2 separate regions of the Homo sapiens genome follow, and region 1 is linked to region 2. Evidence: fine-mapped expression QTL. A gene starts in region 2. The other region holds a variant in brackets. All regions are shown on one strand. Distances are from middle to middle. Region 1 overlaps EFTUD2 (elongation factor Tu GTP binding domain containing 2). Region 2 holds the start of FAM187A (family with sequence similarity 187 member A).

Region 1 (2,904 bases), 27 kb after region 2:
ACTAGTTTTGTCATCTATTGATGATTCTTGGCTTGTTCCTACAATAGTTGCAAATAGTGAGTCTTCTAACTCTTCTTATTCCTTCTGTTTTGTTTTGGTTTTGAGATGGAGTCTTGCTCTGTTGCCCAGGCTGGAGTGAAGTGGTGCGATCTCAGTTTACTGCAACCTCTGCCTTTTGGGTTCAAGCAATTCTCCTGTCTCAGCCTCCCAAATAGCTGAGATTACAGGTGCACGCCACCACACCTGGATAATTTTTGTATTTTTAGTAGAGACAGGGTTTCATTCACCATGTTGGCCAGGCTGGTCTCGAACTCCTGACCTCAAGTGATCTGCCCACCTAGGCCTCCCAAAGTGTGGAGATTACAGGCGTGAGCCACCGCTTCCAGCCATTGTTGTTTGTTGTTGTTGTTGTTGTTGTTGTTTTGTTTTTTTGAGATGGAGTCTTGCTCTTCCGCCCAGGCTGGAGTGCAGTGGCGCAATCTTGGCTCACTGCAACCTCTGCCTCCCAGGTTCAAGTGATTCTCCTGCCTCAGCCTCCCAGGCAGCTGGGACTACAGGCGCCTGCCACCACACCTGGCTAATTTTTGAATTTTTTGTAGAAATGGGGTTTCACCATGTCGGTCAGGCTGGTCTTGAACTCCTGACCTCAAGTAGTCCACCTGCCTCGGCCTCCCAAAGTGCTGGGATTACAGGCATGAGCCACTGCGCCTGGCCTATTGGTTGGAATTATGTTGTAAAGAAGTGCTTTTGTTTCTCCCCCATTTGCTTATTATCACTGTGGATATTTGGGTTTGCATTTTATTCAGTGAGTTATAATCTGTTACTGTCCTTATGGATTCCGGTGCTCTAGTGCTCTTGTCCCAGATTTGGCTACTGAGAGCTCCTTCAGGCTGATTCCATCATCTTTTTCACGCCTCATCGTTTTTTGAGCACTTCCTTACTTTCAAGCACAAAAAGATGTTCTAGACGTTATCTTTCCTTGTCCCAATCCTGGACTCAGCCATTTCTTCAAGGAGCTCTGGCTTTTTTTTTTTCCTTCAAAGAGATGGCATCTTGCCCTCTGGCCCAGGCTGGAGTGCAATGGTACAATTATACCTCACAGCAGCCTCGAGCTCCTGGGCTCAAGTGATTCACTCACTTCAGCCTCCCAAATAGCTGGGACTACAGGTATGTGCCAACATGCCCAGCTTATTTTTAAATATTTTTTTGAGAGATGGGGTCTCGCTCTGTTGCCGGGGATGGTCTTGAACTTCTGGCTTCAAGCAATCCTCCTGCCTTGGCCTCCCCAAAATGCTGGGATTACAGGTGTGAGTGACTGCACCTAGCCTAGCAGCTCTGGCTCATAGTGGGGAGTAGTTTTTTTTTTTTTTTTTTTTTTTTTTGAGACGGAGTCTCACTCTGTCGCCCAGCAGGCTGGAGTGCAGTGGTGCGATCTTGGCTCACTGCAAGCTCTGCCTCCCGGGTTCACGCCATTCTCCTGCCTCAGCCTCCCAAGTAGCTGGGACTACAGGTGCCTGCCACCACGCCCAGCTCATCTTTTTGTATTTTTAGTCGAGACAGGGTTTCACCGTGTTAGCCAGGATGGTCT[C/T]GATCTCCTGACCTCGTGATTCGCCCACCTCAGCCTCCCAAAGTGCTGGAATTACAGGCATGAGCCACTGTGCCCGGCCAGTGGGGATTAGTATTTAGAAACAAAGGTTTGGATGTGCTCATTGCTACTGGGGTACATTGCTTCTAGGCCCTCTCACTGAGCACAGCTAGGTTATATACACTCATACATATCTATAACTATTTCTACACACATATATTAAAAATCATGCATTAATCCTAATACCCCCAATTCCATTTCAGCACCACTGGCTCTTCCCAGCCTTCTTAGTTCCTTCTTTAGCACTGAGAAACCTGGCTCCCAACATCATTGTTCATGGGTTTATTCATTTCTCAATCCTGCAAGGTGCCCTCTTAAAGTTCCTGTGTCTATCTTCGGGCAGGATGCTCTCTGCTTCCACCCAGTAATATTTCCCGAGGTCTTTTTTTCTCCCCAGGCTTCATGGTTTGAAATAGTGCCTTCTTTGGTTCTGCTTTGAACTTTCTGCCCTCCTTGTTCTTCTTACCACCTTCTGAGCCTTGTTTTTCTCAGGTGATGCTGAACACAGAGCGGCTGATCAAGCATGCGGTGCAGGAGAGGCTGGCAGTCACTGTGTGCATCAACAAGATTGACCGGCTGATCCTGGAGCTGAAGCTGCCTCCAACTGATGCTTATTACAAGCTGCGCCACATTGTGGATGAGGTCAATGGATTAATAAGGTAGAAAACCCCTGGGAGTGGATTTCCTGTCCTCGGAGGCTCTGGGTTTTAACCCTGAATACCTCTGGGAACAACTGTGATTTATTTCTAAGCGTGTGTTGATGAGTTTGTTGGGCAAAACTAGAGGCACATCCTGGGACTCTGCAGGGGTTGACTTCATACTTTAACACATCTTCATTTTACTATTATGATCAGTACTTGGGCTGTATTAATTTCTTCTCTTTTTAGAGATAGGATCTCTGTTACCCAAGCTAGAGTGCAGTGTCACAATCACAGCTCACTGCAGCCTCGAACTTCTGGGCTCAAGCAATCCTCCCACCTCAGTCTCCTGATAGCTGGGACCACAGGCATGTGCCACCATACCTGGCTATATATTTTTTAAATTAATTAATTTATTTTTTTTTGAGACGGAGTCTCGCTCTGTCGCCCAGGCTGGAGTGCAGTGGCATGATCTCGGCTCACTGCAAGCTCCGCCTCCCGGGTTCATGCCATTCTCCTGCCTCAGCCTCTCAAGTAGCCGGGACTACAGGCACCCGTCACCACGCCCGGCTAATTTTTTGTATTTTTAGTAGAGACAGGGTTTCACTGTGTTAGCCAGGT
Region 2 (2,855 bases):
CGAGTCTCAGGATCTGAGAACGAGGCTGGGTAGTGCCCATGAGATGTCACACCCAGCCGGAAGCCAGCAACTAGCACACCCTGCCTCCAGCAATAGTAGATGCCCCGGTCATCCAGCTGGGTGAAGCGGATGTGGAGCTGGTTGCCGTGGTCAATGAACACCCTCATGGACCTGTTGACACCCTTCAGGTACTGTGTGCGGTAGAGGTGCTGGCGGTCTTTGTCCCAGGCCACTGCATGCTCTGGCCGGGCCCCAGGACAGGAGATGATGAGTCCATGGCCCAGTCTCTGCTGGTGGAACTGAATGGGCACCTGGGGCACCCAGGGCCGGCTGCCCACTTTGGACACATAGTTAATGATGGCCAGCACGCCCTCCCGGATGGTCTTTGTCTTCTCACAGGGTACTAAGCAGCTCCGAACCAGCACCTCAGGCGTGTGGTCCCTGGCCTTGGTCCGCAGCTTCCTTGGCACAGCCCTTGAGCCACAAGACACCACATCGGGCACGGCCTTGAGGTAGCGTGGGGAGAGGTCTGGGCTCTGCAGGTAGCAGAGGCCGATGCGCCACTGCTCCCCACGCACTCCGCAGCGGTCACAGGGGGTCCATTCCCAGAAGGTGGTGAAGACATGGAGGTGCCCATAGTATTCATCTGCAAAGGGCTCCTGGCCCTTGTCCTGGAAAGTGGCCACCATTCCCTCACTGTTCTGGATGTCCACATCGTAGGCGTAAAAGTAGTCCCCCTTGCGGGTGCCGCAGAAGTACAGGCCTGAGTCCTCAGACTGAGCCCTGAAAACCAACAAGCTGAACATGCGGATGCTGAAGCGGGTCAGCATGTCGCTGCCCACACGTACCTGGGCTGCCTCCGTCAGCACCCGCCCATCAAAGTCCGTCAGCACTTTGGTGTGGCTGCTACCTAGGTGCTTTTGGTAGAACCAGACTACAGCTGGCACCTCTTCGGGTTTGCAGTGACAGGGAAGCTCAAAGCTCATGTCGGCCAGGTAGGCTGCATTTTCAAACATCAGGAAAGCAGGGCAGGGGGTCCTCTGAAAAATGTTTTCCTTCTCCACAATTTCAAAGGCCTGGAGCCCCCATGCCCACAGGAGCACAGTGGTGAGGGCCAGGTGCATACCTGAAGGAGGCAGGGGTCAGAGGGGCAGGGCAAAACCAGGGCATTAAAGGCTCATAGGGCTCCTAGAAAGCTCTGCTAAGCGGAAGCCTCTAGATGAGGAAAGGATTATGCAGCCAGGAAAAGCAGCAACAATCTGCAGAGGAAGCCGCCAAGTGCAAGGCAATTTATTCCCAGTGGATGTACAAGATGCCCTTCTAACATTCCAGACCTGATCTCAGGGTGGGGGGGGAAAGCCATTCTAGAACCTGGCCTTTACTCCCCTTTCTAGAACACTGGCGCTCACCCAAGAATGGGTCAAAGGAAACCGGAATGAGAAGGGCGGGCCGAGGTGCTCGGGCAGGGAGATCTCTGCCTCAGTGCTCCAGGCCCTGCCCTGCCAGCCTGGTGGAAAAGTCTTTCATCAACCTGGGGGATGAAGGAAACCCACCCTCCTGCATATCTGGCCATCCGGGAGGCTGGCTGGACCTGAGCTGATGGCTTGGGACTTTCCCAGGCCCAACCTGCACAAGAACTGAGTCTCTAGGGGAAAATTCAACACCTCAAATGATGTAGTATTTGATCATTTGTTGATTACATGTCCATTCATTGGTTTGGGGCTATAAACATTCTTGTTAAGAGCTGTGGAGATCAGTGTTTGTTTACCATAAAGATTTTGCTTTTTCCCTTTTATGAGTGGAGGCTGTAACTGGTATAGCCAGCATTTGGTTGGGCACACACTCATCTCTCAAGGCCAGTGGGCTAGAGGCTTGGCAGACTCTAAGGGTGGGAAACAAAACCGCTCTCAACTTCCTGAGCTCTTGACTGTCCATGGATACACACAGTTCAAAACAGCGAGACACTGAGGGACTGGAGAAGTGGGGAAGACTTGATTCCTGTTTTTGCTCTGAAAATTCCAAGTTGAGAAGGGAACCAGGTGTGGGTTTCTTATTATGGTCCTGCAGAACCCCCAAGACAACAACCAAAAAACTGCCTCCAGTGACCACTGGGACCTCTGAGGGTAGCTTGCCGCATCAGTCAACCTGGTACAGCTCCAGCAGCTCCTGCAGGAGCCTCTCCTCCTCCTGGAGCCCACCAGACTGCTCCTCCAGACCCTGCTCCTCCCAGCTGAGCCCCTCCTTCACGGATCTGGGGTTGCCCATGGCTTGCAGCTTCTGAAACAAGCCCTTGCAGCTCTCTCTCTCTGCCCGGCTCAGCAGGCTTAGGTTCAGGGTGAAGCGCCCAGTGCTCGCCAGGCTGCATAGGATCCCCAGCACCGCTGCCCGGTCAGCCGGCCCCACGTGATCAGCCAGTGCCACCAGCAGCTCCCCAAGAAGTCCAAATCCCACATCTGTCTGGAAGAGGCAGCCGAGCCTTGGACCCCCAAGCTGCAGTAGAGCCTGGTAGCGCTCTGGCCCACTTGGCAAGTGTCGTCGCCAATCACGATAGAAGTCAGCAGACGTCTCGGGCTGGAGGGGGGCTTTCTCCTGGACCACAAAGGAAGGAAAGGGAGTCAGGAGCTCTTCCAGCTGTTCTGCAACAGTGACAGGGAGGGGAGCCTGTAGCTCTTCATCTTACTGTCTTCATCTCACTACTGTCTGAGCACTGGGAAAGCTGTGGTCCTTGGCGGCCTCATTTTCAGATGAGGAAACTGGGGATGAAACAGGGAGGGCCCCAAGGAATCCACGCCATGATTTGAGATTCTCATTTATACTGGAATTTTCCTACTCATGAATGGAGACATAGCTCTGGT

What was found. PIP is the estimated chance that this variant, and not a neighbour inherited with it, causes the effect.
Region 1: its variant is the best candidate, but not a certain one, in a credible set for the expression of FAM187A in whole blood (TOPMed, PIP 0.85).

Annotation. Positions count from the first base shown.
Region 1 is chr17:44,875,334-44,878,237 of GRCh38, reverse strand. It overlaps EFTUD2 (elongation factor Tu GTP binding domain containing 2), which reads left to right. Exons shown (of 28, transcript NM_004247.4): 10 at 2,138-2,304. Among named protein-coding and RNA genes, the nearest start is that of EFTUD2, 23 kb to the left of the region's middle. The variant C/T (reference allele first, on the strand shown) is at 1,589.
Region 2 is chr17:44,902,099-44,904,953 of GRCh38, reverse strand. It overlaps FAM187A (family with sequence similarity 187 member A), which reads right to left and starts at 1,521. Exons shown (of 1, transcript NM_001258400.2): 1 at 1-1,521. The coding sequence starts at 1,124. DNAAF19 (dynein axonemal assembly factor 19) reads right to left here. Exons shown (of 4, transcript NM_213607.3): 4 at 1-2,589. The coding sequence ends at 2,137. GFAP (glial fibrillary acidic protein) reads left to right here. Exons shown (of 9, transcript NM_002055.5): 9 at 1-1,795.